Linked DNA regions of Homo sapiens. The protein of the gene in region 4 purifies or fractionates together with the protein of the main gene of each other region. This does not show direct contact. Each region holds a gene or a part of one and is shown on either strand. Other genes may lie near its edges. The genes, in order: CAPN15, SIDT2, SLC12A6 and ENTREP1.

Region 1 (7,681 bases), on a different chromosome or scaffold from region 4:
CGGACTGTGCATCTGCGGCTCTCGCTCTCCCGCCCCCCGCGCGAGATGCCCGCCTGCCTGTCACTCTCAGATGCAGATGGAGATGGAGAAACCAAGGCCCAGGGAAGCTGAGGACCCAGGTCTGCCAGTCCCCTCAGCCCAGCTGCTGCTTGCGGGCTGGTGACCAGAAGAGGACCAGGCGTGGCCTACAGTGAGGAGTCCTTGAACCCTCAGTGCAGGTGCAGCAGAATGGTTCCAGGTCACAGGGCCCAAGAACCCTGATTGCTTCATGAGTTAGAACTGAGGAGTGACAGGCCGGGCGCGGTGGCTCACGCCTGTAATCCCAGCACTTTGGGAGGCCCAGGCAGGCGGATCACAAGGTCAGGAAATCGAGACCATCCTGGCTAACATGGTGAAACCACGTCTCTACTAAAAATACAAAAAAATTAGCCGGGCGTGGTGGCCGGCACCTGTAGTCCCAGCTACTTGGGAGGCTGAGGCATGAGAATGGCGTGAACCTGGGAGGTGGAGCTTGCAGTGAGCAGCGATCACGCCACCGCACTCCAGCCTGGGCAACAGAGCGAGACTCCGTCTCAAAAAAAAAAAGAACTGAGGAGTGACATGGGCGGTGTGGGTGTGTCCAAGGCCAAGTTCCTCCTCCCAGGAAAAAGACCTGCTCTCCCACCTACCCAGGGGTCTGTGTGGTGCCAGTAAGACCCATCTCTGCCTAGAGGGAGAAGCTGGAGGTGGGGAGGGGAACTCACTCCACGCTGCCAGGCCAGAGCCAGGGAGGGGAAGGGGAGCAGCTTCCTCCTCCTGATACCCCACTGTGGTCTAGGAGCACCTCAGTTTCCACGCTAGATTTTAAACATGGGGCTGTCCACAGTCCAGCTGGCCCCACCTCGATGACCCACTGGGGTCTCCAGCCCAAAGGAGTTTGAGACAGGAGGACACAGGATGAAATGGAAACATTCCCGGAAGGGCTGCCAGAGACCTTGTGGGTGAGCGAGAGCAGGGTGGGGTGGCCGGTGTGCATGCCTGGTGGACGTGCCCAGAAGCCTGCACCCCCCAGGAGGCCCGAACGTGTCCCTCTGGAGTGTCGCCCCCACCCCCAGCTGTGCAGTGGGATGGTCACTGGGCCTGCCAAGTCTCCCAAGGCAGATCCTGTCCCCAGCTGGCTCCTGACATTGAATGTTCTGAGTCTTGGTCAGTTCTGCCCGATGGAAGAGCACCAAGGAGTCTTGCCCGGCAGGATAGAGAGGAGCGGCTCTGCCCCTGCCCTGGAACAAGAGCCCCGGACGTGGGTGCAGAGCCCCTCACATGAGGACCGCCCCATCCTGCCTCTGCTGAAGGGCAGGTATAGGAAGGCTGGACCCCCTCAGCGGCCCCCCGGATGTGGGTGCAGAGCCCCTCACATGAGGACCGCCCCAGCCTGCCTCTGCTGAAGGGCAGGTATAGGAAGTCTGGACCCCCTCAGCGGCCCCCCGGATGGCACCCTGGCCCCTCTACCTGCTGGCAGTCCAGTAACCTGGAGGTGGTGGCCCAGAGAAAGGCGGGAACTTCTCCCAGGGCCCCGTCCATTGTTATTTTCACCTGTCCGGCCGCCCATTCTTTTTTTGAGACGGACTCAGTCACCCAGGCTGGAGCGCCATGTGCCATCCCAGCTCACTGCAGCCTCAACCTCCCGGGCTCAAGTGATGCTCCTGCCTCTGCCTCCCAAGTAGCAGGGACCACAAGCACACACCACCACACCCTAATTATCTTTTAAGTGGAGACAGGTTTCGCTTTGTGTGTTGCCCAGGCTGGTGGTCCGTCGTCTTTTTGACCCAGGCCTGTGTGGCTCACAAAGCAGGCAATTGCAGGGTCATCCCATCAAATCTGAGCATGGCACCAGAGCACACAAGTCAGCCACCTGCGGGCCTTGGCACCCTCGTGCTCCACGCCAGGGTCCCTGTGTGCTCAAGTCTGGGCTCCATGATGGCACTGGGGTTTGTTCTGTTTGCTGCTTTGTGCGCGTGAGGCTTTCTCTGGGTGCCTGAACAGATGCCTCCAGTTTCAGTTCTTTCTGTTTGGCCCTCCCCATCCTCTTCTCCTCCAGGGGGGATTCATGGCTCGCCTCTTGGCTCTTCTGGGCACTTGGCGAGCTTCTGCGCACTTGCGTTAGCTGCTCAGGTCTGTCTGGATGTGAGAGTCGTGTCCTCAGGCCAGGAAGCACTGGCACGGAGCAGGGCTCGGTCAATGGTCTGGATAATCCAGAGTCACTTACCTTCTGCTGTGCAGTCATTTACAATTCACGCCTGTGTGCCTGATGTCTTGTGACTCAGAATCTTCAAGACAATCACAGGCTGGCCTCACGGAGGCACGAGTGACTCATTTCTCTCATCGCACCCATTCCCTCCAGCACTCTCCTTGTGCGGGGAAACCTCAGTCACCTTGAAGACGCCTCCTGAGGCCCTCTTCTGGGTGAATGGGCTTCCTCCTTCACCATGACAGGCTACTGGGGAGAGCTGGGGTGCTCCCACCCTCTCCTCACCCCAAATGGGCCTGGCCTAGCAAAACTGGCCAGAACTGGCCACTCTGCAGTGAGCTGGCAGGGCCCTCAGCATCAGATCAACAGGTTCAACTGCAGCTGCCTCTCTGGTGGGGAGGTTATAAGGCCTGCTGGCTAGACCACTGGCCCCTGGCCAGGGAGCCACCTAGGCAGTGCCAGGGAAGGACTGGGAAGGGAAGAGAACCTGCGGTCCCTGAGTGAGGCCTTGACTGCACCCTCTCCTGTGGTTCGAAAGCCACACTTGGCCAGTATCCTGCCATGCAGGTGAGGAAGCTGGGGAGGACAGGGTCCCAGAGCCTTGTCCAAGTTGCAGAGAGGAGAGCCAGCTCTCACTCTGCAGCCCTCTGTGCCCCCAGACCCCCACTGGCCCCCGGGGACACATTTCCTGCCCTTGGGATGCTTTGGCATGGATATAGTCTGGGAACAAACGGCACATCCAGCTGCCCTGCCTGTCTCCACAGAGGGGGCAGCAGACCTAGGGGGAGGTGTCCAAGACACAGGAATGAAGTGTCCTTACCAAAAGCTTCCGAGGACAGAAATAAACCCCTCCTGCCAGCTTCTGCACTGACTGCAGCTAGAAGCCGAGCTCCACGTGGGACACAGGTGTCCCTGCTGCGGCATCTCAGCATGACGGAGGCCCATCCTTGGCTTTCCTGGAGCATGAATATCCTCTGAGGAGCACTGGCCCTGGCCTTGTAGGTCTTGCTGAGACTGGCTTAGATTTTCTGGCCCAGGAGCAATCGTCACCCAACCTCCCACTTGTAAATCTCGCCACAGAATCGGCCCACAACCGTCTCTCCGGAATCTCGGCGGACCAGCCCTGCTCCTGTGTCTCCCTCTCCCGCAGAGCCACTGCCTTCTCAGGCTCCTCAAGTGCACCTAAGAGCGGGAGTCTGGCTGCCCTCAGCACTCGCGTCCCGCCCTGCAGCCTGATAAGCTTGACGCCAAGGCATTCTCCCGAGAGCCGGCCCAGCAGCTGCTGGCAGGAGAGTGGCCTCAGGGCAGCGGGAAGGGGACCTCCGGGGAGAGAATGAGGCCTGCGCAAGGGTCCTGGAAGGACCCAGGAGTCGCCCCGGCTTCCCTCCCCCAGGCCCTGGTTGGGCGCCGTGGGCCGCGTCCCAGTTGAGCCCGGCGTGGCCGTTTAATGGCGTCCCTCCGCGACCGAGGACGAAGGGGCCTAGAGAGGCTGTGCCCAAGCGACGCTGCGAGGCCAGGCCGCGTCTCGGGCCAGGGCGGTCCCCTTGCCACCGCCGCTCTTGGCCGCCAGGACCAAGCACAGCACGCAGCGTCGCGAAAGGGGCGGTCCTGGAAGGCGCGAAGGGGTCTCCGGGTCTCGCGAACACGGCGGGGTCGGGGCGGAGTCGTGGGTCCTCGGTCGAGCGGCCGCCCAGAGCCCCGCGGGACACGGACGGCCCCAGCCCGGCTCCCCGCGAGCCCCACGCGTCTGTGACGCCGCTGATGCGCAGACGCCGCGGCTGCAGGCCCCGCCCCTCCGTGCCCCTCGCAAGGCCCTCTGGGAGTTGTAGTTCCAGCTCCTCCTCGGGCCGCCCCACTCCCTGATAATCCTGGAGCGCGGCGCCTCCCGGGGACCGAGGCCTCGGGCCCGGCCGTCTCCAGCAGCGAGGGCAGGAGAAGTGGCCCGGGCGGTCGGCGGACTGGGAGGGCGCCACCCGAGGACTACAACTCCCGGCCTGCCTCGCGCAGGCACCGCCCCGAGCTTCCGCCCCGTCGGCGCCGCGCAGCCCTGTGGGAGCCGTAGTCCGGGCGCGCGATTCACAGCGCCGCGTGCGCCCCGGGCGCGCCGTAGCCGCGGGGCCCGGGCCGGGCGCTACGCTACGAAGGCAGCGTAAGGCGGGCGCCGGACGCGGGCAGGGGCCGGGGCCGGAGCCGGGTCGGGGCGCCCCGCGGCTGAGGAGCGGGAGGCCGTCCGGGCAGCGCGGCCGGCGGCGAGAGGGGCCCCGCCGCTCTCCGGAGGCAGAAGTTGTGGATCGGCCGGCGGGGGCGAGCGGGCCCGGGGGCCGGGGCCGCGCTGCCCGGGCCGCGAGGACGAGGCGGCGCCGCCGGGCTGTGGAGGTGAGTCCCGTCGGCCGGGCCCGGCCGGGCGCCCAGCCGGGGACCCCGGGCGGGGAGCGCGGGCCCGGAGGGCGGCGGGGAGCGCGGGCTCGGCGGGGCGCAGGAGGCCTCGGGGGCCGGGCGCGCCGGGCTCCGAGCCAGGGCAGGGACGGCAGGGCCCCCGGAGTGGGGTCAGCCCGCCGCCCGCTGGCGCCTCCAGGCTGGTGGGGGCCAGGGCTGGGCGATGCTTCGCAGAGGAACCCAGAGGAAGGCGGGAAGTCGGCAGGGACCTGGGCCATGTGGGTCACTTGAGGCCAGCCCCGGGGGCCGCGCACACCGGAGGCGGCCTCGGCCCTGCCTGCCCTTGAGTGCCCTTATATCCGGGCCCATCGTGCGGTCCTGGCCGCCTTAGGGATGTTGTGCTTGGTGCGGGCATCACTCCCCTCACTTGGGGAACGGCCTGGGGGCGGCCACCTGGCGTGGAGGGGCTGGCGGGAGCCCCGTCTGTGCCAGCCATGCCAGTGTTCTCTTCCGTGTTCCTCTGGGGCTGCTGCGGCACCAGCTGGGAAGTTGCAAATCTGCTGTCCTCCCGCTGGCTGCAGAAGGGGCCCCTCTAGTCCTGACCGGGGGAACTCTTGTGTGGTCAGCTGGCCCTGGCCGGGCGAGCTCTCGGGGCCCCCTTACTGCTCTGGAGTTTGTTACCGGACTGCAGGTAACAAGACCCGGAAAGCAATGGTGAGGCCCAGAACCTGAGGCCAGGCCTGGGTGTGTGGGGCCAGTGGGGAAGACTGGGACTCCGTTGGGTGCTGAAGAGTTGTGTGCTTCTCCTTCGGGAAACCCGGATCTCTTCCTCTGCCCAGGTCTGAGGGGTGCGGAAACGTGAGTCACAGTTCAGTGTGGGAGTGCCCCGTAATTGCCTCCGCGTTTCCAGAGTCTGGGGCTGGGCAAGGATATAGGGGTGATTCTCCCTTCCGGTTCTGAGTGACTTCTCAACTGTGAAGTGGGGCAAGAGAAATTGTTTTTCTGGCCTGTCTGGGGGAGGCAGGTCCTGCAGGAAACCAGCTTGGCCTGGCCTTGGGTTGGGTGTGCCTTGCCTCCTCCGAGGTCCTTCTGCTTGCGGGAGGAGCACCCCTCTTTTTCCTGCTTCTGTCTGTGTCTGAGGCTCTCCAGAGCTCCTTGATTGGCAGAGGAGCCAGTGACCTCTGAGTCCCCAGGAGAGCCCGAGGCTCAGTAACTGCATAACTGCGCAGGGCCTCTTGTCTGGGCCTCCACAGACCGTGGTCTCTGAGAGCAGGAAGTGGCTGGTCCCCTGTAATGCTGCATCTGTGTGACAGCCTCAAGCCCTGCTGGCTCTCTCTCCGGGCACCCCTCACTTGCTTCTTGCCCTGGCCTTGGGCAGCACTCCGGTAACCCCAGTGCCACAGGTGAGGAACCGAAGCTGGAGACAGCTGTTCATGGCAGGGGAGGGGCCGAGGGAGGCTGAGCGCCTGGTCTCTCCCTCCTGCTGGTTCCACCAGTTCACACGAGGCAATTGGAGGGAAGGATTCTGCTGCCCGGAAAATCCTCCGGAACCACAGGTGTTGTTCATGGGCCTGAGCCGCTCAGTGAAGAACTCGGCCGTTGGTGGCCGAGTTGCCCCTGGTCCAGCCCTCTGGCCCGCGGTGTGATGCCTCTACTCATGGCAACAGGCGTGGACAGGTGCTGAGAAGGAGGACGACATCATTAAACAAAACAGCTTGGGGTCTTTGAAAAACAGTGACAGAAACCCAGGAAGGCTGGTGACTTGTCAGGTCTGTGTCTGTCCTGGGTGGCCACTCGGCCCTGGACCGTGAGGCTGAAATGACAGGAGACACGGAGGGTGGGCTTGGGTGGTTTCCTCATAAGACACAGAAGAAGGAGGCCCCCAACCCGGGGGCTGCCTCGTGCGCTTTGCTCTCCTGTTTTCCTGCTCTGTCCCTCTGGTCCTGCCCTCTGACCCCTGGCACAGCAGGAGTGCCCAGAAGCCCAGTGGGACTTGTTCTCTGCCTAAAGCCCTTCCGCATCCCTCGTACCCACTCGGTGTGGATGTGGGTTTTCTCACCACCAGGCTGTGCCTCAGCTGTGTGGAGCCACTGGCCTCTCATGCCCCACGCTGGAGAGAACGCTGAGGTCTGTGCGGTTCTCATGTGACCCTGTAGCTGGTCCCTGGCTCCCCACTGTGGGATCTGCCTGCAGCACTTACACTTGGGACCGCCCTGTCTCCCTGCTGGATGTGGCGCCGAGGGCAGGGTCCGTTTCTGTTTCTTGGTAGGCCTAGTGTCTAGCGCTATGCAGCCGTGCGCAGAGCAGGCGGTCAGTGAGCACCTGGGGTTGGCCCTCACCACAGGCAGTTCTGAATACCTGGGTTCTGGCAGCCCAGGGGGACTCCTGCGTGCTCCAGGAAAGTAGCACAGCAGCCCCTGTGGCGTGGACACGGCCACACCTGAGCTCGGCCTGTTTCTGAGTCTGAGAGAACAGGCTTGCTGGCCTGTGATCTTTGCATGTGTGTCTCGCTGCAGGGAGGCTGTGGGTTGGGGCTGGACCTAGACCCGTTCAGCCACACCCTGTCACTATGTGGGTCACACACAGCTGGGTGGAGACCTCCCGGTGCGTGGCCCAGGGAGGTGTCTGGGCGTGGAGTCTGTGGACAGCCACATTGTACCACTAGGACAGGGGCTGCTGCTGGGCCCACAGGGTGCACGGAATGGGGTCTGTGGGAGGATGGGGGCATCCTAGCCCAGGGCAGGGACCCCGTGGGCCCCCCAAGATGAGCTGCGTCAGGCTGTTGCTTTGCACACTCTGAGGGGCCTGCCTGAGTGCTGCATGGGAAGCCAGCAGTGTGGCCGCCCTCCCCAGAACTCATCCAGGGCACCAGGGTGGACCCATGAGTCCCGTCGGGTCATGGGCATCAGCCTCGCCATCCTGGCCTCCAGATACAACGATTTGTCAGATTCCCTGAGGTCAAAGGGAAGCTTCAAGGGTTGCCATCCCCGCCTCCCTGGCGGTCCTAGACGGGATGTCAGGAGGACGCAGGGCCATCGCTGCTTTTTAAATGTCACAGTGACTGCAGCGTCTGCTCCT
Region 2 (7,781 bases), on a different chromosome or scaffold from region 4:
ACTGCTACTTGGGAGAAGCCCCCTCCCCCAGGTTAGAGGTGGACAAGAGGGGCCTCCCTCACACAGGGCCGAATTCAGGGGGGCAGGGTTCAAGGACATCCCACTGCTGCGGCCGCTTAGACCAAGAGGGTTTGGCCAATCAGGCCGGAAGGGGTTGGAGGTCAGGTTAGTTTCCCCGGCATCTGCCCTGCCCCAGCTGAGCCCCTTCCTTCTGCTTCCCTAAATGCCACGTCAGTGGGAACATGCTGGGGCGGGAACGCAGAATGTCCCTTTCTCAGGAAACGCCTGACCAGGCCAGGCCCACGGGTCAGACCTTGGTGCGAATGACATTCTTGTCGGAATCGATGTCGGTCAATGTGTCGTAGTCATCCTCCTCCACAGAGCTCATGGAGTCCACTCGGGGCCGAGTACCTACAGGTTCAAAGGAGCGGCCTGGAAAGGGCAGGGAGGGAGGGGTTGCACCGGTGGACACAAAACCCACAGTGGCCCTCGCCCATCTGAGGCAATTGTAACAATTATTAGGCAGTAGGGAAGAGGCAAATTGTGGGCTGGGCCTCAGAGTTGGGGTGGAAGTGGGCTCAGGAGCTGGGAGGAGACATCAGGTGCTCCTAAGTCCTGGGGGATGATGGTAGACTCTAGAAGAGGCCACCACACAGGGGCCGCTCTAGCTTTGCTCTGTTCCTGGCACCCCTCATGGGCTAGGGCTTCCCAGGCCAGGACACAAGGCAGACCCCAGGCAGCAGACACAAACAACAGGATTGAACTCGGCAAGTCATGCTGATTCAAGGGTGCCCAGCCCTGTGGGTTCTGAGAAGACACTGCCTTGGCTGCCACTGGGTTAAAGACCCAGTGGGCCTGGGGTGCAGAAAGAGCATTTCTCCTTTATCCAGAGGCCAGAATGTGACCCCCATGCCTGTGAGCCCTCCCCAAGCAGGCCAGGGAGTGAGGGCGCTGGCAACGCAGACGATAAACTAGATTGTCCAGCCTGGAGAGAGCGGAGGCGCCAGCCCGCCAGCCAAAGGAGCCTGTGCTCTGCTGCTATCTCAGAAGACACAAGAGCGGGCAATTACTGGAATTACATGGGGAAGCCATGCACATAGAATCTTTCTGGCCCCACAGCCGGCAGTCAACCGGAGCCGGCAGGCACTGATTGGCAAAACAGCCCTACCCCCACCCCAGGTCTACCCATGGCAATGCACAGCTGCCGCATCTGGCCAGAGGGGAGGCGCCGCTTGAACTGGTCGTGCCCTTCAAAGGAAAGGGAAAGTTACCAGGGAACTGGGGCCAAGGAGGAGGGGATGAGGGAAGAGAGGGGTTAGGAAGACAGCAGGCCCTTCCCAGGTTCCAGCATCTGGCAGAAGAGGCAACCGCCCACCGTGACATTTTACCCAGACAACACCGTCCTGCACCACACCGCCCCTCCCAGCCTGGCCCACTCACCCTGGTAACCGTAAGAGAGGTCCCCAGTGCCAGCGCTGTCAACCAGACCATCGGTAGATCCAGAAACATTCTCTGTGGGGAACGATCAGTGGTGAGGCAGGAAGGAGAGGCCGCAGGGAAAGGGGCTCTGAGCATCTGCAGAGGGTGTGGGGGCTGGAGGAGGTGGCTCCCACTTTACCGCCTCGGAGGTGGTGGCCTAAGGAGACAAGGTCATGTCCCCAGCAAGCACGGTGCTGGCTTTGACACGTACCAAAGGAGCCATAGTTGTAACCCTCATAAGGGGAACTGCCAGGAAAAGAATCAGCCAGGACTCGAGGGTGACCTGCAATGAGAAGTCAAGGTCTGTTAGCACTGGACGAAGAGAGAGGCCTAGAGCCAGGGAGAAGAACAAAGAAAGGTCCAGAGAAGACAGCCACAGGGAGGCCATGCCAGCAGACGAGAAGCAGCACCTATCCAGGCAAACACACCCCACTGCTGCCACCACCACCCGCCCCAGCCCCCTGCCTGCCTCTCCCATGGAAACAGCACCACCCTTTGTCTTCCCTAAGGAGAGAGAAAGTTCAAGAACAGGCACATCTAAGTTACCAGCAACAAAGACAACACTGGCCCGCCCACGAGCCCTCCAGACAGCCCTGTGCTGCACCCTCCCTCCCCTACTCTGGACTCCAGCTCCTCTGCCCACAGCACCTGGAGCTTACCAAGGAGAGAAGCTAAGAGAGAAGGTCCCACGCAGGAGGGAGGACAGAAAGAGAGGGAGGGGTGGAAGAGAGAGAGAAGGAAAGGTTAATAATCCCAGAGACCGTGGGCCACACTGCCCAAGGCAGGCAGACACCATCGCTAGACATGGAATAAACCAAGCAACACCTCAGCCTCTGAGGTGTGCATGTTAGGGATGCATGGACATCATATCCCAGCCTCATTCCCATCTGTGGAGTGTTACCCCCATCTGAACATCCAGAAACCCCCAGCCCTTCCTCCTCCAACCCCCTAGGGAACCATCCACCACCACCCCCCAAAACACAAAGCACACTGTGCCCGCCCCACCCAGGCCCCCTGGAGGTACCGCTTTCTGGGCAGGCTCGGTCAATGGCCACCAGCAGGGTCTTCTTCTTCTGCCTGCATGGACAGAACCCACAGGCCACCCAGATGGGACAGGACAAGGATCACTCTGTATGGGGCTGACTTTCCTTCTACCTCTCTGCTCCACTCTCATCGCTATGACCCTGTCCTCCACCCTTTGTCCCAGGGTTCCTCACAGGCTGGGGAGCAACATGGGATCTCCCTGCTTGGGAAGAAGGTTGAGGGGAGGGGATGGTTTCTAGAGAGGCTCATGGGCCACAGACTCTAACAGCCCCACCATCATCTGCTATGGATGGTGTAGATTACCCTAGGCTGGCTCAGATCCTGCCAGGTGATCTGCCCCACACACCTGCCCAAACCACCCAGACCAGGGGAGGCCCAGCAGTTCCACTTTACCTCCAGTTCTCCCAGCAGGCCAGGAGGACGGTCAGCAGGTAAAAGGAGAGAAATATACCCAGGCAAAAGAGCATCCCACTGACGTATGCCTCAGCTTCAAGGAGGAAACAGGAAGGTGGACAGGTCAAAACCTTCCACCACCTCCCATCATGGCACCCAAAGGCCTTCATGTCCTCCTCCACCCAGCTCAATCTCTCACCCTTCTCCCCTCAAATGTAAGGCCCTGCCTAGCCAGTATGAACAACTGGCAGTTCCTCTAATACACCAAACTCTGACACACTCCTATTTTTGCTCATGTTGCTCCCTGGGCTAGAACTTTCTCTTCTACTTTTTTTTTTTTTTTTTTTTTTTTGAGACGGGCTCACTCTGTTACCCATGCTGGAGTGCAGTGGCACGATCATAGCTCACTGCAGCCTCCAACTCCTAGGCTCCATCCTTCCACCTCAGCCTCCTGAGTAGCTGGGACTACAGATGTGTGCCACCACGCCTGGCTCATTTTTTTATTTTTTATAGAGATTGGGTCTCGCTATGTTGCTCAGGCTGGTCTTGAATTCCTGGCTTCAAGCAATTTCCCTGCCTCAGCCTCCCAAAGTTCTGGGATTATAGGCGTGAGCCACCGTGCCTGGCCTCTCAAAAATTCCACCTTGACTTAACCCTCAAACCACAGCTCAGGGACTGTGTCCTCTAGGAAGCTTTCTCTGTCCTGTATTTCCACAGTGACCTGTTCCTTGCTCACCACAGCTCTTAACTGCCTCCTGTTCCTCTAGACAGGACCCCGCCCCCACCAAGGACTGCTGCCTTAGCATACCACCTGGCATATAGGAGGTGCTCCATAAATATTTGCTGAATAAATAATCCATGTAAGAGAGGCACCCTGGCCGGGCGCGGTGGCTCACGCCTGTAATCTCAGCACTTTGGGAGCCGGGGCAGGTGGATCACGAGGTCAGGAGATTGAGACCATCCTGGCTAACACGGTGAAACTCCTTCTCTACTAAAAATACAAAAAATTAGCCGGGCGTGGTGGCGGGCACCTGTAGTCCCAGCTACTCGGTAGGCTGAGGCAGGAGAATGGCGTGAACCTGGGAGGTGGAGCTTGCAGTAAGCCGAGATTGCGCCACTGCACTCCAGCCTGGGCAACAGAGCAAGACTCCATCTCGGAAAAAAAAAAAAAAAAGAGAGAGAGAGAGAGGCACCCTCTGGCTGGGCACGGTGGCTCATGCCTGTAATCCCACACTCTGGGAGGCCAAGGTGGGCGGATCACCTGAGGTCAAGAGTTCAAGACCAGCCTGGCCAACATGGTGAAACCCCCGTCTCTACTAAAAATACAAAAATTAGCTGGGCATGGCGGCAGGTGCCTGTAATCCCAGCAACTCAGGAGGCTGAGGCAGGAGAATCATTTGAACCCGGGAGGCGGAGATTGCAGTGAGTAGAGATCTTGCCACTGCATTACAGCCTGGGTGACAGAGCAAGAGTCCATCTCAAAAAAAGAAAGAGAGGCACCTTCTTTCCCCTCCTATCACAGTCCCTTAGGGCCCCATTTAATCATTCAGTAAATATTTATTGAGCACTGAGTAGGGGCCTGGTACTTTCCTGCTAATTTTATCTGCTAATTTTGTGCTAGCCCTCATAACTTAGTGAGATTAACTGGACAAATTTTACTCCCTCTGTTATAGAGACAGGGAAACTGAGACTCAATCTTATAGCAGTGTTTCAATGACAAATTAGGGTATGTTTCTGAATATGAGATTAAGAAACATCCTTCAGAATAAATAAGATTATAACTATGCTAACAAAGCAAAATTAAAGCTCTTTCTTACAATCAGGTTACACTGCTGATAAGTGGCAGAAAGTGAACTGGACCTCAGTTCTTCCATCTTTAGTCATGAACTCTCTGTACCACATCACACTGGAACTCACCTCCCGGCCCTCCCCATCTAGAAGCCTGCCAAGAACACTCCCCGTTCCTACCCCACCAGCATATCTGCATCCTCATCACCCACTTCAGGGCACACCCTATATCCCAGGTCTGAAAGCAGGAGCCAGAGAGGCTTGTCCATCCCCTCTCAGCCACCTGCAGCACTCACACGTGACTGCTTGAGACACCAGCACTGACAGGGTTTTCTGGCGGTGCCCTTGATCGACCGGTTCATCTGGAAGTAAAATGTCAAAGTGGTAAACTAGTTGCCTGGAGCTTGGCTAGAGTCAGTGGGATCAGGCCTTTGAGAGACTGGAGCCAAAAACCCATGTCCTATCAGGTCCACCAATCAGCCACGCAGGCTCTTCTTGCTCCCAGAAAGTGACCAAGACCTCCCCATCCCTAGCCAGGCCCAGGGCACAAAATGTACCTTCTGCGAAGGGGTAGAAAGGCAGGGAGCCCCCGCAGGCTTGGTCTTCGGTCTTCACCACCACCACCACATAAAAGCTGTTGCTGGGGAAGTCTTTGCGCTGCAGGATGATGATGATAAATATCTTCTTCATCATCATCATCATCATTCTTTTCTAAATACTTGTTCTGGGGCCAGACATTATGCTAAATTCTTCATAGATATATTTTACTTAATCCTCACAAGATTTTTTTTTTTTTTGAGACGGAGTTTCACTCCTATTGCCTAGGCTGGAGTGCCATGGCATGATCTCAGCTCACTGCAACCTCCGCCTCCCGGGTTCAAACAATTCTCCTGCTTCAACCTCCCAAGTAGCTGGGATTACAGGCGTCCATCACCACGCCCAGCTAATTTTTATGTTTTTAGTAGAGATGGGGTTTCACCATGTTGGCCAGGCTGGTCTTGAACGCCTGATCTCAGGTGATCTGCCCGCCTCAGCCTCCCGAAGTGTGGGATTACAGGCGTGAGCCACTGCGCCTGACCTTTTTTTTCTTGAGACAGAGTTTCACTCCTTTTGCCCAGGCTGGAGTGCAGTGGTGTGATCTCGGCTCACTGCAACCTCTGTCTCCCAGGTTCAAGTGATTCTCCTGACTCAGCCTCCCGAGTAGCTGGGATTACAGGCATGCGCCACCATGCCCAGCTAATTTTTCGTATTTTTAGTAGAGACGGGGTTTCAGCCTGTTGGCCAGGCTGGTCTTGAACTCCTGATCTCAGGTGATCCGCCCACCTCGGCCTCCCAAAGTGCTGGGATTACAGGAATGAGCCACCGCGCTCAGCCCTCTTATTGTTACAATGAATGAAGTAGGTATGACAGCCAGAAGGGGGTACTCTACTCTTTCCCATCCCCAAGAGCAACTGGGATTATGGTACAACTCTCATATATATCAGGGGACTCAAAGTCACAGGGACTGGAAGGCCAAAGACTCAGTCGTGTGTAGGATAGGAATGGGCAGAGGAAGAAGAGCTCAAGTTTGGAAAGCTACACAGCTTATCGCCCAGCCACACCTCCCACGTGGCCACATGCATTTCCTACCTGTACGGTGATGGCCGCCTTCTTGGTCATCGTCTGGTACATGCCGATGAAGGCTACGTTGTTGTCCAGGTCATAGACAGGACACTGCAGAGGGGCGGGAGAGGCAGATGGATGGGAACCTGGCCTGCCCCTCTCTTTAGCAGCCCTGCTGCCTGCTGGGGAAGAGCAAAAGGGCAGGCAACTCACCAGCACATCCTGAATGGAGATGACTGAGCAGGGGAAGGCCTTGTTGGAGGTCACCTTGACAATTACCGAGTCCACGCCTTCAGGGAACTCATACTTGAAGTACTGAGGGTGCAGGAAGGAAGGGAGAGCCCCATCTCATGAGGATGCTCTCTTGGCCCCTCTAGAAGGGAATAGTCCCCTATAAGCGAGGACCCAGAATCCTCTGAGGGGTGGGCAGTGGAGGCTCTCCGAGGAGACAGGCCTTGATCACAGCAGCCCCTTTCTCTGTATACCATTCCCTTCAACCTCAGCAGGGCACTCAGCAGAATGCCAGAGAGGCAACCAGACTCCATGTCTCTGTACAGTCCCATGCTGTCTGTCCCTCACCATGTCAGGGCCAGAGCTCCTGTTTCCAGAGAGCCCTCCATGGAGAAAACAGCCAATTCAAAAGGCCAAGCAAAGACCGCTGGCCACTCCCATTCTCATATTCAAGCTCCCCCATTTCTCCTCTCGAGCAATCAACAGGGAGATGTTACCTGGGGCTGTGCTGCTGTGGTATTGAAGCTGAACTGCTCCCCAGTCCTGCAGGGCAGAGAAGAGCCCCCACCAGTCACCCCCGGAGCCTGGGGAAGAACCAGCCCCCGTGGTCCCCTCACTCTACCCTGCAGACCTGAGCACAAAATCGTCCATGCGGCTGACCCGGAGCTGGTATGTGGTGTTGACTGGTGACAGGGTGGACACATCCACGTAGAAGAACTGAATCTCCGACTCATTCTTGGTGGGGGGCTGACACAGGGTTCGTTCCACTTTTTGGTAGAGGTACTTGCGCTGAAACCTATGGCCCGAAGCAGGGAGATAGGATGTGAGCACTGTCCCAGCCGGCCTGCCCCTCCAGAGGAGCGAGGCCCCACCTCGCCCCGTCTGGTCTCCACCACCTCCCTGCGAGGTGCACAAGCTCCCGGCTGGTGGGACTCGGCCCTTGTGCTGTTGACCAGCCTCCCAGCCCAGGGAAAGGGGAGGAGAAATGGGGGGGCTCCTGGTTGAGGCTCCAGCCAAGGACTGGCCTAGGCTGCCCCGCTTCCCTGATGCCCAGATCCTACTCACATCCCTCGCAGGATTAGGGGCACCTGGAAGGACACCACAGCCTCCTTCTGGCGGACCACAAACAGCAACGGCGCCCCCTTCTGCTTGTTCAGGACGTTCACAGACACACGCACGCCCTCTGTCTGCAGAACGACATGGAAATGCCTCTCAAGCCTCTGCCACCAGGGACACGTGGCTCC
Region 3 (7,781 bases), on a different chromosome or scaffold from region 4:
TCATCAGAGCCAATGCTGGTCAATCGTAGCATTGAGTTTCGGTCTTTCACCAATTGTGCCTGAGGAAGAAGGTCCAACACAAGTTATTCTACCAAATTTTCTCTTATGCTTCATCTTTGGTTATTTTGAAGCAGTAATGGGTTATAGTGGAATAACTGACAGAGTGAGAAGGAATTTGTCATCCTTGAAAACAATATAGTATCATCCCTTTTTTTTTTGGTTTGAGACAGAGTCTTCCTCTGTCACGCAGGCTGGAGTGCAGTGGCGTGATCTTGGCTCACTGCAACCTCCGCCTCCTGGGTTTAAGCACTTCTCTGCCTCAGCCTCCTGAGTAGCTGGGATTACAGGCATGTGCCACCATGCCCGGCTAATTTTCGTACTTTAGTACAGATGGGGTTTCACCATCTTGGCCAGGCTGGTCTTGAACTCCTGACCTCTTGATCCACCCGCCTCGGCCTCCAAAAGTGCTGGGATTACAGGCGTGAGCCACCATGCCCAGCCCAGTATCATCCCTTTCAGTGACAGACTTTAGAGAGCACGGATTGGATTGATGCAGTAATGTCTCACCTCTCTGTCTCGCTCTGTTTTGGATAGCCGCATGTGCCGGAGCATCTGGGACCTTTGTTCCATCATCAAAGTGCGCTCGTAAGTATATGCTGATATATCACTGTCATGCTGCCATAGACATCACATAAAAGGGGCAAAAAGCACAAAGGAGAAAGAAGGATGAACCATACATTTTTATTTCCAGTCACTAAATTAAACCAGGGACAGCATCACTATATTAACCTAAGCTTCACCCTTACTTTGTTTAGTCATTGAGCTACATAAATGTTTTTGTGACTGTAGATAAAATTCAGAGGCCCTGAGAGTCTTTTCCATAATCTAACCAAGACATGTGTTGCCTTGAAACACAAAATACAAACTCCAGTCTCTCTTTTTTATACTGTTAGGTTTTTTTTAAAAGCCATGTGTGATTTTAAGCTGAATATATGAATAAAAATTTCATAAAACTATATTAAGCAGATGAGAATCTGGCAGAAATATAAGGGCTGTGTAATAAACAAGAAAGCAAAACCAAAAAATAACATCAAACATGCATCACATATACATTCTACTTAGGGCAACAAATTAGGGTTTTTTTTTGTTTTTTTTTTGGCACTAGGGGATTAATCCACATTTAGATCTGAAAAATTTCCCAAACCAGAAAAGATTCAAGGAAGACAGGGAGAGGAATGGGGGAATGAACCTCTTGTATCTCAAACTCAGCTTTCTCACCATCTCCACCACTTCTACCTCCGCCTCAATGCGTAAGTGATATAGGAAGGTGGCTAGGTCCTTCTTCATTTGGATACTGTTGTCTTCTAATTGGGCTACTGTGAAGATCCGTATGCTGCACTTTCGCCACACCTGAGAGAGTGACATACACATGTGAAAAATTAGAGCAAGGAGGCAAAAAAGGTTATTTCCTAAGACATTAGACATTGTGGTCTAGAAGAACCTTGCTATATGTAGTATAAGGCTATTTGTTCCTAGCTTCCTACTTGCTATGTTATTGTATTAGGGCAAAAGATTGACTAAACACCACATTTAATACAGTTTTAAGGAGTCCTTAATTTCATAACAAGAAAACACTGGCAAAAGAAAAGATGGTTCACGATACGTTAAGAGGGTACTTTATTCAGACAGTGTATCAATGACAACATGCAGACTATATATTTACTATTTTAAATCTCATTTAATTAGTCTTACCACGGAATGAGCGCATATATGCGTGCAATACACACATATACATATACCTTAAGTTTTCAGTATTTTTTAAAAAAAGATGTGTTCACTTGTTGTTTTCCCCTAGGGCTCATATGGAACTTTATTAATTGGCTGAATTTCACTTGGAGATAAGTAGGTATCAAATACAAAGACAATGATTTCTCTTGTTTGAAAGTGGGATCATGGGAAAGCCTAGAATAACTTCCAACTCTTCTGATTCTAAACCCCAACACTATTATAATCAGAGGAAGAATTTGTCTGTCCTGTGAACCAGGACAGAAGGGAGAAAGACTTTTGTAAAAAAAAAGTTGTATAAAATACCTTGTGCTGTTTCAGTAGGAATGGTAGTAGCATAAGCATCCCCCCATCATGCACAATCCACCACACATCAATGTTGCCCTCAGAAAATTGCTCCACATTGCTGGGAAAGAAGGAGATGTTTTTAGCCACCAGCAGTGCAAGATGGGCAGCAGTTGTCACTCGAACTGTGCCTAGGGAGAAAAAAGAATAAGCAGAGAAGAATCCTTAGGCTTGCCTTGCTTCCTAGCATGTCAGGAAAGCAAGGAAATGCTCTTTTCACACTTCTTTGAGCAAGGGGTCCTATTTACTTAGTAGGTTATTTCTCATTACGTATCAAAAACCATTGTGAAAAATCTGAATAGCTAACAGACTGAGAACCACAGTTTATGTTACTAGGTATATTCCCATTACTACATTTCTAAGGGGGGATATGTGAATTTGAGAGATTATGATGCTGAAGAACAATTCTTGCAATTCCTGTGAGAACATCAATATGGAAAATCACAAATGAAAACACGGCAATTTTGGAGATAATTCCTAGCACAAGACTTGACAGAAATAATTCATGAACATAATGTGAAGCTGAAGGGGGTAGGTAGAATCTGGGTATTACTACCAATAGTTTTTCAGGTTGCCTTATAAGACTATGCTTCAGCAATGGCATAGTCTCTACTTTAGGAGGCTGGGGGTGACAGAGATTTAACTATATACCCTCGACTTGGGCCTTTAGGTTTGTATGAGAAATGGTTAGTACCAATAAAAGTCTTCCAAGCGCGGGCATCTTCGCTTTGACGCCAGCCATTAGGCCAGCCCATCACCACCGTGTTGTGCTTCATGCCCCCAAGGCCACATGACTGGATGAGGTGGGAAATGCCCTCTCTCAGCTTGGCGGCCACCACCAGCTGGCAGAATCCTTTTACCTTCTCTGCCTCCATTAGGTGCTTTATGGTCTGAAAGAGACACAGGACCGCAACACTGAACTGGTTCACTCTGGACATTTTAACCCATTGTTCCTTCTCCATATTATATCCCCCACCTTTTTCCAAAGTCTTCATAATACTATATCATCTACAGAAAAGTCCAAAAAGTTAAAATTATCCCAAAGGAATTTCATGATCTTTTGTCTTTTTGCTTACTACGTATTTTTGCCTCTGTAGCTGGTTGTCTACATGTAGTTTCTCTGCTTTTTCCTCTGTTCTGCTTTTGTTCCTTTGCACCATACCAAAAAACTGGGAACAGGGATCTCTACAAAGTGAATATTCAACATTCTTTCTCAGTTGACCAGGGTGATTCACTATTGTGAACACGATCTCCTTCCTGCCTCAGCCCCAGTCATGCCCTGACTCATCTTACCAGAAACTCAGTATGATGATTCAGTTTCACTTTAGAATTTTCTCAGGTATGTTTTCTTTTTCGCCTCTCCCATTCCCATATGCTTTTTGACATTTTAATGGTGATTATTCATGACACTTGTATTTGCATTACTCTTCCTTTATTTAGTCAAACCAATTTGGAGATATCATCTCATTTACTCTTACTCCACCCTGGGAATAATGGTATGGAAAATGGAATGATTTTTGCAAAGGCACAGATTAAATCAGTGATGCGGCTAAGAACTAGGCTCTCCTGATTTTCAATCCTGTGTACCTTTTATTAATTTTTACCATCATTCTGGAGTAATGTTTCTTCAGCATTTCTAGTGTTTAGGATTTCAAAGGATTCCAAAATGAAATCCAGTAAAACTTTTTTTTTTAAATACTTTAAGTTTTAGGGTACATGTGCACAACGTGCAGGTTTGTTACATATGTATACATGTGCCATGTTGGTGTGCTGCACCCATTAACTCGTCATTTACATTAGGTATATCTCCTAATGCTATCCTTCCCCCCTCCCCCCACAGTAAAACTTTTGAAATGCCATTGAACACAATGGCATTTCAAAAACAATAGGATTAGTTCTATCATATATAATAAGTATTAGAGTGAAAACAACTTCCTTGTTAAAGTAGAACTTTAATGTTCAATACAGCTAACCAGAAGTGGCAAAGGAATCTTGCTCATGATACCACGTAGATTAGTAAAGAGGAAGAAAATTTGGTCATTACTCCTTGTTGTCACAAGATTGAGAGGAACCCTCTCCATAGTTCAAGGGATCAATTTATTTACATGACTTTTCTCAGTGCTTAGATTAATGTTTGGAGTATATTTGAACATAAGGTTTAGACTTAATAATCTTATAATTTAGTAATGCTTTAAACAGGAAGAAATAATAAATAACTATTTTTGGCTCATCTTATTATTTGGGAAAAAGTGTCCTTTCAAAGGTCAGCACTAAGTGAGAAACCTCCTAGATCACTCAGGAACAAGATTCAAGTAGAAGTTTGAGGTCTTACTACTTAACATCACAAAGCTGTAAACTGAGTTCCAATACCTCAAAAGCCTGACTCTTACCTGCTCAGCAGCTAAAGCTTCACCGTAGTTCTCTAGGAAGTTCCCCACGATGACAGAGCCCACAATAGTGAGACCTTTTCCTGCTTTGAGCTGTGAGGCAAAGGTGAGGAGGCGAGGATGCTTGACATGTAAGTCTTCATCTAGTTTCAGTAATACAAGCAACTGAGGCCTGTGAAGAGGTTGGTGGGGGTTGGAGGGGAGGAGAAAACATTTTGGGTTTGGGGAACAGAATGACAGACTCCACCCTTTAATTCAGGAGATCTGTATGAAACAGGTAATTTGACAGAAGGAAGAGATCACAGGAGATGACAGGATAAGGGCATTATTTTGAATGCTCCCAGTACTATCTCAAGTTGATCAGTCTTCAAGGAAGAATAATAAATTGTAGAAATCTTGATCATAAACGACATGAAGAAAAGGGAATAAAAAAATTAAGGATTTAGAATAGTTCAAAACAGGTCCATTATACCAATTCCTTGAGCCACATATGGTTTCCTTATCCTAAAATCAACAAAACACATATTTTTGTGTGTTAACCATGTGCCAAATACTGCTAGTGTTGATTTCTTTACCTCCAGTTTTTAGTGTGTGGAGGTCCTTCCTCCAATCGAAGCAAAGCAAACCGGGCTGCACTGAGGGACAGCCCACGGATACCATCACCCCATTCTTTCTCAGCTCTGTGAGAAAAAGAAAAGAGCAGAGACAAATTTAAACTATAGTAAGTATAATTTTAAAAAATAAAGTTTTTTTCTGAATCTAAAAATCACACATGTGCAAGGTAGAAGATTAAAGCTCAGATTAATGATTTACATAATGTTCTTTACTAACATAATGAACCTGATGTAGGTAGATCAACAGCACCAACAGACTGCACTGCACAAACAGTTCCCAATAAAGCCTGAAGGGGTCACTCATTCAGTCCTTCTATGTAATTGTTCAAAACAATAATGTAAAAGAGCAATTTAGATTAGAAAATTATAACAGACCTGGAGTTTAAGTTACTTTGAAAATAATGCAGAGAAAGTAAAGTTCAATGTGATCTTCTGAATAAGAATGTTATTTCGTCCTCATTTTTGAAAGCTGTAAGTCTTAGTAGTTACTAAGTTGTTCAGAACTAATTTCTTTTTCATTTCAGAGACAACCCCTTGACTGAAGAGATAAGCAAAAATATTTACATTTGTGTTGTACTTTGTTTAGTACTAATTATTATTATTTGGAAATGTCCTTTGTTATTTTCCATTGATCCATTCATACTTTCTCAATGGATCTCCCTTGTGATGAAAAGCTTGCATCATTAAGATGGTTAAAGAATTAGGGGTACAAAATATAGTTATGAAAATGAAGTTACCTGAGTCCTTAAGATATTTTCACTGAGCTGGCTCTAACCAAACTAGCTAGTCTTGCTACTTTTAGCAGTGATCAAGATTAAATCCACACTCACCCTTGGTATTCAATGTACTTGTAGATCATACCAGCTATTACCATGGCTACAATGGCATAATACCAGGAAGAAATGAACATCAGAGCCAGACAGATACTCATTCCCATGAAAGAAAGGGCCCTAGAAAATTAAAAACAAAAAAGTATCTTTTAAAGTAGCTGAAAAAGAAGCCTATGTTAAAGGTGCTTCTCAAACTATCTGTGGTGAGGTATTATTTTTTAAAAACTTTGAAACTATTATAAATAGAACTTTTGTAAAATGCAATAAAAATGAATTATTCGAAAAATTATCACATGCCTGGATGCTGTAGCAATGTCAAACTGCCACAAAAGTTTCTAAATGATTATTCTCAATTCTATAGTTGTCTTATCATGAAACAGTCGGTAGATGTGCACTAAACCCCAAACTGTCCTTTGCAACAGAAGATGTTTCCAACTGCTGGAAAACCATATAAATAACGGAACACTATCAGTCATCTGCAGTTATGAGGACAATTAATACTTACTTGGCAAAGCCAGGATGGGACACGCAGCCAGAAATGTTAATAACTCTAGGATCTTTTTAAAAAATTTCATATAAATATTTCTAAAAATTTTATAAATACTTATTAGCATAACTGCAGAACTCACTGAGAAAAATTATTTTTGGGCCGGATGCGGTGGCTCACAGCTGTAATCCCAGCACTTTGGGAGGCTGAGGCGGATGGATCACAAGGTCAGAAGACTGAGACCATCCTGGCTAACACGGTGAAACCCTGTCTTTACTAAAAATACAAAAAATTAGCCGGGTGTGGTGACGGGCGCCTGTAGTCCCAGCTACTCGGGAGGCTGAGGCAGGAGAATGGTGTGAACCTGGGATCTCAGCTCACTGCAACCTCCGACTCCCGGGTTCAAGCGATTCTCCTACCTCAGCCTCCTGAGTAGCTGGGATTACAGGCATGTGCCACCATGCCCGGCTACTTTTGTATTTTTAGTAGAGACGGGGTTTCCCCATGTTGGTCAGGCTGGTCTCAAACTCCTGACCTAGGTGATCCGCCTGCCTTGGCCTCCCAAAGTGCTGGGATTACAGGCATGAGCCACCACGCCCGGCCTCATAAAGAACTTCTAACTAACATTAAAGCTAGAAAGAGGATTTGAGGCATTAAAAATCAGTTGAAGATTTTAATTTTTGCCCAGTAAACGTTACATCACTGCCCACCATTGGTAAGTGAAGACAGAAAGGGAACAAGGAGAAAGTTAGCAAAGAAGAATGTAGCAACGGGTACATACAGGACATAATTAATGAGCTCTGAGCTATAAGAGGAAAGAGATGGGATGGTAGCCAAAAATCTTTCATGATGACCCCTTCAGGACTGGGGAGACTTAACTACAACAGCAGCAGCAGCAACAGTTCATTGAGAGCTGAGCTTTACTATGTATCAGGCACTACGATAAGCACTTTAGATTTATTAGTCCCATTTTACAAATGAATAAAATTAAATTTTACATGGTTATGTGCTTTGCTGAAGGTTACAAAGCTAGGAAATAGTAGAGCTGAGATTGGAATTTAGAACCTCTGACTCTGTAACCCTAAGAGACAAACAGGAAAATAAACATGCAAGAGAAGGTTGTTTTAACCTGAAAATTATAGAAGGCTGGATATCTCTATTTAGTGCTTTTGCTCTATTCGTATTGGGTGTTATAAGTTATTATAAAGTGATATAGGAAAATAGGATAGGAGGATGAGGATTCAGATAAGAATTGAAAGTTGAAACAGTATGAAATGGCTGACCAAGAAAAAAATTTTATCGAGAACCCAGACTCTCCTAGTTTTCTAGTTCA
Region 4 (7,781 bases):
CAATGAGGCTGTGTGGCCGCTCAGCCTCCACTCGCCGGGGCCTCCTCTCGGCTCGGGGCCTCCCCGCTGGTGTGAAGGTGTGAAGGTCGCCGCAGCTCTGGAGGTGCAGCAGGCCAGGCTGTCTCCGCGAGGGCAGCTTGTGGGCCCTGGATGTGCTGGGCTGCAATGGGGCCATTATCTTTGGGAAAAGAGAGGGGTGGGGAGAAGTTAAGTAAGCTTTACCAGATGTGGCCCTTTGACCTACCTCCTAGGTCCATCCACCTATCTTAATGTGTAATTGCTTTGAAAAAGAAAAAAAAAAGGCATTTTCCCAAAGTGGAACTCACTTGGAATTCCAGAGGTTCTTTGTAAATCCTCCAAATGTTCTACCATGTCCGCTGTAGACCCGTAAACCACACTTAACTGGTTTGTCCGTTGCAATTTCTTGCTTTAACATTCTTCTCATTGCTTTTCTCTAATTTCTCTGAAGTCTAAGTCAGTGATCCTTGCTGGCATCTGAACATTACTACTGGGTCAGGGAGGGACGGGTATTGTCAGAAACATGAATTCTCAGCAAATTGCTACAGAATTCCCATAGCAATGGGGACAGTTAGCCTGGACTCAGGCTCAGGAATCTGTATTTTTAACAAGAATCCAAGTAAGAACCACTGGTCTGGGATTGGGACCAGGTGATGGGTTTATAAAATGTCAACCAAGTATAGGCGCAGTGGCTCACACTTGTAATCCCAGCACTTTGGGAGGCTGAGTCAGGAGGATTACTTCAACCCAGGAGTTTGAGACCAGCCTGAGTAACATAGTGAGACTCCATCTCTACAAAAAAAAAAAAAAAAAATTAATTAGCTGGGCATGGTGGTTCATGCCTGTAGTCCCAGCTACTTGGGAGGCTGAGGCAGAAGGATTACTTGAGCCCAGGAGTTCTAGACCAGCCTGGACAACATCGCAAGACCTCATCTCTACTAAAAATAAGAAAACTTGGCTGGGCGTGGTGGTGTGTGCCTGTAGTCCCAGCTACCTGAGAGGCTGAGGCAGGAGGATCACCTGAGCCCAGGATTTCAAGGCTGCAGTGAGCTATATCTACACCACCGCACTTTAGCCTGGGTGACAGACGGAGACCTTGTTTCAAAAAAGAAACAGTCAACCCAAACCATCCAATGATGCTTCAAATGGATCTGATAATCCTTTAATAAACAATATAAAAATTAGGCCAATTTATTTGTAAAAAGTCTTTAAGAATGATTCTTTTTGCTAGATCTATTTTGCAATGTGTCACAAACATAATTTTGAATATATAATAATATCACTTACTCTGTAAAAATGGCAAAAATATGAAAAATTCCTCATCCAACTGGGATTGAAGAGGAGAGAACTGTCCGGTCAATTTTTTAAAAATTGCACTGCCATGTTTCTTTGACCCATAATACTGTCAGCAGCTTCGGAAAACCTTGGGGCTTTATTGTTACCTAACATCACAGCACAATCATTTGGATGACTTTTTGTTTCATTTGTACCATTCTGAGCCTTTAAGGTCATTAAAAGATTATTCCTCCAAAGAAGGAAAATTAAATTTTATTAACAGTCTACTAATTACATTTGTCTTTAAGGTCTGTCCTTGTCTCCCGATTAAGAATAAAAGTTCAACATTCAAAGAAGTTGACTGTGCTACATAGTAAGTTAGGACAAGTGGTTTTGATATCAGTGAAAATCAAAATGGATCTAAAAACTCCAAGATGCGAAGCCAGCTAGAGTCAGAAATAACTGGTCTCCTTCTGCTGTCCTTACCTCCTTCTGGTGTTCTTACCTCCTTCTACCAGGGAAAAGGTATAGAATTGTGAAAGCTCACCTCTAGGTTCCAGTCCTGGAAGGCCCAGGAGATGGCCCAAAATCTATCACAACAATCTCAGCACCTGAAGTTTTAACCTGCCTGGGGCACAAAGATCTAGCAAACATTTGTGATGATAGCATCTAGTGAACTGTATAAGTGCTTGTTCTTCTTCCCCAGAGCTATTTCTCAGGGAGCAAGACTTTGCAGAAGGTCCAGGCCCACTACCTGGTGAATGCTCCAGCTCTTAGCTCATCAGAGCTTGGCAGCCTTCCAGAAGTGACTCCTGATTATTGGGCTATTGGGGCCGGACAGAGGGAAGGTGACAGACAATGACATCTGGAGTAGCTAAGGGACACCAGGATGTAAAATGTTTTCCCTACATAGGTTAGTAACTGGAGCCTCACCCGGAACCGTCAACTGATCACTCTTTCAGAGTGCAAACCCAAGAGGGTCTGTGGTTCATGTACCTCTTCATGCAAGTAATCAGATCATTCCTCCCCGCTGAATCCCCTGAGGGACTGGGAGAGAGTTTGGCTTCTGGCTTCTGTAAGAAGAGGCCAGCAGGTAGAAAGGGGGAACGGAAGGGACAGTGAGAGGGTATTTACTCAATTTGAATTGAAAATTTACCTACATCCTGAAGTTGGTAATTACCCTGAGAAATTAGCCCACTTCAGTTGAGGAAGTATTTGTTAGCCATTTAATGCCCAAAGACACAGAGCCACAAAACATCCATACGCCATTGTGGGGTGCTGTCTACAACATCCACCCCACTACCTGCAGCAATGAAGCCAACACCTAAAAGGGAATGGCTCTTAAAAGAGGTGGAGAGAAGGCTCTTACCAGAAGGAAACTCCATTCATTCAAAAATAAAGGTAGAGAGACTACCTAGTCCAACCATTTACTTTAAAGAGGAGAAACCTGAGACCCAACTGGATTATGTTCATGCCCAATTCTATCTTTTCCCCAAGTGGCTTCAGTTTCGGGGATTGCCTTGTACTTTTTAATCTACAAGAAGAAAAGGTGCTTATTCCCTTAGGACCTGTTGGCTTATTTATCTTGCCAAACATTTCATGGGAATGTGAACAGCCTCTTAGAATCTTGTTGATATTAAAATTCACCTATGTCATCATTTCCAAAGGGCTGAGAAAACATGCCCTATCAAAGGAAACCTTCAATTCAGGAAATCAAATGTTGAATGCACTCCACACTGTCCACATCCTCCGCTTTTATTCCTAGGATGCACTCTTTAATTTTCCCAGACATGCTTCCACATCCCAGAAAAACTGGGTTCTCTTCCCTTGAGCCAAGAATGATGTGGGAAAGTTACCACACTTGAAAGAAAGCTCCCCGGCTTCCTCTGTCTCCCTCCCCAGAACTCTCAACCCAATTTCCCTGAAGACTGTGACCATGAACTTACTCTGCCTTGGACAAGAAAGCGGAGAAGCCACTTTAGCTGCTATGAAAATGAGTCATCTGATTCATGCCTGAGATTAATAATAAAACTACCTGTTCTAGAAAACTGGCACTTGTGATGGCTTCCTCCATGTGCTCCTCATCAGATTTCAAAACAGATTTAATGTTTTCTACAAGTTCATGGATGTCTGGGGTCATGGTACAAGAGGACTGCTCCAGGAACCTCGCCACCAGCAGCTTGGTGTCCATGTAGGATTTGTAATCTATCAAAGACCGCGGTCTGCATCGCGAAGCTCTAGATCTCAAGCCTCTCCTCAGAGTCACTGCAGCCAGATCCAGTCTCCTTTCAGTCTGTGTTGCAGCTTCACAGCTGAGCACTGGGGCAGCTGTGGGCAGAAACAAACAACATGTACCCATTGGCCAACCCCTTTTGAACATATGCCTGTACCTGAAAGCACAGACCACAAAACTCAACATGGAAAGCATCTGACAAATGCTGATAGCCATGCACATCCTGCTTTTCATCTTGCAGAAGGAGGGAAAACAACACAAGGTTATTCCCTGAAGTCCAGTTCCAATAGGATATGGCCCGAAACACGTCATTGTGTCATGTACGACACCACCCCCAAGGTAAAGCCAGATGGTGGAGAGGAGAATCCAGAATGCAAACCATAATGAGGTTAAGTTTCATGGGGTATGACAAATAGATGGGGATGGATGGGCCAAGCAGGAAAAATGTGGCTGACCAATGAAAGGATGTTCCAAGGAGCGAGGATGAAGTAGTCAATTAAGAGAGGAAGGGGCTGAAGAGAGACAAGACTTGTCAGATGAATGTAATGCTCTGATCACTTTGACTATACCTTTGTCCCAAACGTCCTCAAGGACGTTGTACTGACTTGTGTTATCGATGCTCACACCATGGATATGAGGTAGATCTATAGCTATTACCAAAAGAGAAATTTAGGTGCAGAAAAAGTACACATCATTCTGGAAGTCAACAGAGAGCCTGGGAAATCCACTGCAGGCTCTAATTTCCATGGCTGCCTATATCAGCAAGGGTGTAAAGACCAGCAATGCTTCTGCACTGTGAAGTGTGTGAAGCAAAACTCAGATCTGGTCATTATGTGTCCAGAAGTCAGCCAGCAGCCTTCAGCATACACAACATTGGCATCTTCAGTCTATGAAGGCCTGATAAGCAGCAATTTAGAAATTCAAAGAAGACAAGAAGCAGGGGGCGAGAGAGCAGGTGGAAGAAGGGGAGCACCCCCTTTCTTCTGGAGAAAGGCAGGTGTGGGGAGCTCTAAACCAGGATTCGAGACTGTCCTCTCAGGCAGCCATATGCACGTCACAGACAGCAAGAGTCTTCCAGAAGCACTCGCCAAAGACACTCGTGTGAGGACAGAGTCAGGGTCTCCACTCTTCCACTTGAAGGCAACCTGGCGCCTTCCACAATGGAGGGCTCCAGCAGCTGCTGTTCTTGCCCCCGCAGGTCTGCAGAATGAGAAGGGGTTCTGGAAAGATTTCCCTAAGCTGTGCAAACAGCTAAGTTCCCGTTGAGGCTGGAGTCCTCAACTTGCCAGGTAGGGTGTAGGAGACCCACAGTGAAGGCAGGTCTTGGGAATCAGAAGCCAGGCTGCCTGGCCACTGTGTTTCAGAGACACGCTCAGTACCAGGCGGCAGGACTTCCTCTCCACTTAGAAGCTGCTGTAGAGACAAGAGGAATGTTCTCTCTGGCTCGCACATGGTCAGTCCAGAGCTGTGGCAAATAACACACACTGTCAGAGAGCCAGAACTGAGACTGCAAGGGCTCAAGACAGGACCTTAGAGAGAGCAGGGTGGAGGATTATCAAAGTTTTATTTGCATAGGTGTTTTAGAACAGCAGAGGTCAACTCTGCTAGACTACTTCACAAGAAGAAGCTGGTGCTGGTGGAGTTACAGGAGATTTTAATTTTCTTCCTTTAGTTTCTTTATTTTTTATAATTTTCTACAATGAAGAGATATTTAGAGATGTTCAGGTATTCATATATTCAGAAAAAAGTCAGTGTTATTATTTTAATTTTTAATTATTCAGGTAACATCTATACACAAACAACACAGAGAGAGAGGTGAATTGTGTGGGTGCGTGTACTTCATTCTATCCAAAGTTCTAAAAACAAGGTCAGATTTCAATAATTCAATCATCTACTCATACATAGTAAAAATATAACAAATTATAAAAGAGGGAGTATACAAAAATCCTTTTGACTTTTTTTAAGACAATGCATATTCCTATAGGATTGCAGCATCTAGAAATCAGAACTAGGTGTGCATAATTGTCTTCATGTAGTACCTAGCATAGTATCATGTACAACCAAATTCTTTTGATGACAATGACTTTAAAAAAAAACAAAAAAACCCTACCATCCTTAAAAGACATGGTAGATATATATTCCTAACATGGACGTAGAATATTTTACTTTCCCAAGACCTCATAAGCTCCTTCAAATGACCACTTAAACTGCAGGGTCCTGAGCTGGCCAGAGCCACCTGCCTTCACCTGGCTCCTTTAGGCAAATAAGCACACAGCCCTGCGAAGAGCTTGGGGAATGACATCACCTCTCTCCTCAGAAGGATGGAGCACAGGGTCACTCTTCGACCTGGTCCTCAAGGGTGGGAGGGCTCTCCGGCTTCTGATAGGACGCACCAGGGTTGAACTGGGAGTTGAGGTGGATGCATTTTCTTCGGCAGGTATGTTAGGAATGTCCCCATCTGATTTAAAAAAAAAAAAAAAAAAAAAAAAGAGGCGAAACATAAATTATCTCACCAGCTGCAGTCCTCAAAATGGGCAGGAAACACCTGGGAGCCTAAACCTGCCAGGGCAAGGGTAATGCAGTTAATAACATTTACTCAGGCTGCTGGCCCAGTAAGTTTTTACATCACTGACTACAGGAAAACTTGCCTTTCCAAACCACCCCTCCACACCTAAAACAAACAAACAGAAAAATTTAAATCCAAGAGCAAAATAAAGGAGCCATGCCAAAATGGCAGGGGTTTTTTTTTCCTAAAGGTGCTTAGAATCTTCTCCAGGGAAGCATTCTGGGGCAGTACTGAAAAGCACCCTGACATCTCAGGATAAGCCTGGTTCTGGGGAAGGTAATACCAGCACAGGTGAGGTGGCTGCTCTGTGGGCTGCAGAACTCCCGGAAGGCTAAGTTAGAGAGAGTCAAGTGGCCACTAAACAAATCCGTAAAACCCCGCTGGAATTGGATAATTTATGCTCATGAAAATAAAACTGTGAGCCTGAGTTGTAATTCGAGAAACTGTTTTTAAAAATGGAAAAATTGGCTGGGTGCAGTGGCTCATGCCTGTAATCCCAGCACTTTGGGAGGCTGAGGTGGGTGGATCACCTGAGGTCAGGAGTTCAAGACCTGCCTGGCCAACATGACAAAATCCCATCTCCACTAAAAATTCAAAAACTAGCTGGGCATGGTGGCGGTGCCTGTAGTTCCAGTTACTCGGGAGGCTGGGGCAGGAGAATCACTTGCACCCAGGAGATGGAGGTTGCAGTGAACTGAGATCGTCCCATTGCACTCCACCCTGAGCAAAAGGAGTAAAACTCTGTCTCAGAAAAAATAAATAAAAATAAAGTTAAAAAAAAAAAAATGGAAAAATTATGAACATACTTAGGAGACAGAACACTGCTTCATAATTAATTCTACTTAGGATGGAAGGTGAACAGAACACAAAGTATTACATTACAAATAGTACTGCTGAAAAATTACCTTCATCTAAAATTGCTAAGAGTTGATCCATTATTTATCACCATTGTGATTTTGTCCTGGTGGACAATCCTCTGGGCCACTTAAAACCTCCCCAAAGAGAGAAGGCCATAACAATGTTCCCTTAAAGTACAAGGATAAATGTAAACTGACTCTAGTACTTACTGCAGTACTGAAAACCAGAATTCATTAGCTGCTCGGGCAGCATGACCTGGGCCCTAGGTTATAAATGACACAGCACAATCTTACCACAAATCACCTTGCAATAGAGGAAACTTTTTTTCCCCTGACAAAAGTCTAGCTAATTTTAATTAATAGGAGGAAGAAAATCATAGATCAGAAAACACAGGAATATCAATCAAACTCTGTAACCTATTTCATGGTTCCTGAGAATAGTCTGGTTCATAAAAAATTCCAAGGATATCTTTTTTCAGTTCACATATTTTCTCCCATTTATAAGCCCTAATAGTTGATGGTATTTTTGTATCTGGAGAAAAAGGTGTAGCTTGAACTATTTGCTCCAAGAATACCTGCCCTCTAACACAATACCAGACAGGATCATTATTTTATCATTTTTTTTTTCCGTTTGTAGAAATAGGGTCTCTCTCCATGTTGTCCAGGCTGGCCTCAAACTCCTGGCCTCATGTGATCCTCCCACCTCGGCCTCCCAAAGTGCTGGGATTACAGAGATAAGCCACCTTGCCCAGCCTATTTTATCATGTTTTAATCTACTGAATCATGTCACAATGTATCTATTACCTTGAGTCACTTGTGTGCAGCCCAGATC

The links.
Region 1: the proteins of ENTREP1 (region 4) and CAPN15 purify together in Homo sapiens (affinity purification with mass spectrometry; 3 studies listed by BioGRID and IntAct, with this or other methods). This does not show direct contact.
Region 2: the proteins of ENTREP1 (region 4) and SIDT2 purify together in Homo sapiens (affinity purification with mass spectrometry; 3 studies listed by BioGRID and IntAct, with this or other methods). This does not show direct contact.
Region 3: the proteins of ENTREP1 (region 4) and SLC12A6 purify together in Homo sapiens (affinity purification with mass spectrometry; 3 studies listed by BioGRID and IntAct, with this or other methods). This does not show direct contact.

Annotation. Positions count from the first base shown.
Region 1 is NC_000016.10:523,427-531,107, forward strand, and holds the start of CAPN15 (calpain-15), read left to right. Parts: upstream 1-4,285; 5' UTR 4,286-4,603; intron 4,604-7,681.
Region 2 is NC_000011.10:117,181,359-117,189,139, reverse strand, and holds part of SIDT2 (SID1 transmembrane family member 2 precursor), read right to left. Parts: intron 7,725-7,781; coding exon 7,603-7,724; intron 7,334-7,602; coding exon 7,169-7,333; intron 7,081-7,168; coding exon 7,035-7,080; intron 6,622-7,034; coding exon 6,520-6,621; intron 6,418-6,519; coding exon 6,334-6,417; intron 5,362-6,333; coding exon 5,262-5,361; intron 5,067-5,261; coding exon 5,001-5,066; intron 3,011-5,000; coding exon 2,917-3,010; intron 2,557-2,916; coding exon 2,504-2,556; intron 1,763-2,503; coding exon 1,691-1,762; intron 1,513-1,690; coding exon 1,441-1,512; intron 433-1,440; coding exon 314-432; intron 1-313.
Region 3 is NC_000015.10:34,236,141-34,243,921, forward strand, and holds part of SLC12A6 (solute carrier family 12 member 6), read right to left. Parts: exon of another isoform or gene 6,986-7,781; intron 6,082-6,985; coding exon 5,962-6,081; intron 5,198-5,961; coding exon 5,093-5,197; intron 4,690-5,092; coding exon 4,521-4,689; intron 3,021-4,520; coding exon 2,825-3,020; intron 2,262-2,824; coding exon 2,092-2,261; intron 1,411-2,091; coding exon 1,279-1,410; exon of another isoform or gene 1,250-1,278; intron 676-1,249; coding exon 568-675; intron 60-567; coding exon 1-59.
Region 4 is NC_000009.12:69,383,998-69,391,778, reverse strand, and holds part of ENTREP1 (endosomal transmembrane epsin interactor 1), read right to left. Parts: coding exon 7,754-7,781; intron 5,985-7,753; coding exon 5,832-5,984; exon of another isoform or gene 4,096-5,831; intron 3,622-4,095; coding exon 3,329-3,621; intron 179-3,328; coding exon 1-178. UniProt on the Homo sapiens protein: Functions as an activator of the E3 ubiquitin protein ligase ITCH in the ubiquitination of the CXCL12-activated CXCR4 receptor. Thereby, triggers CXCR4 endocytosis and desensitization, negatively regulating the CXCL12/CXCR4 signaling pathway.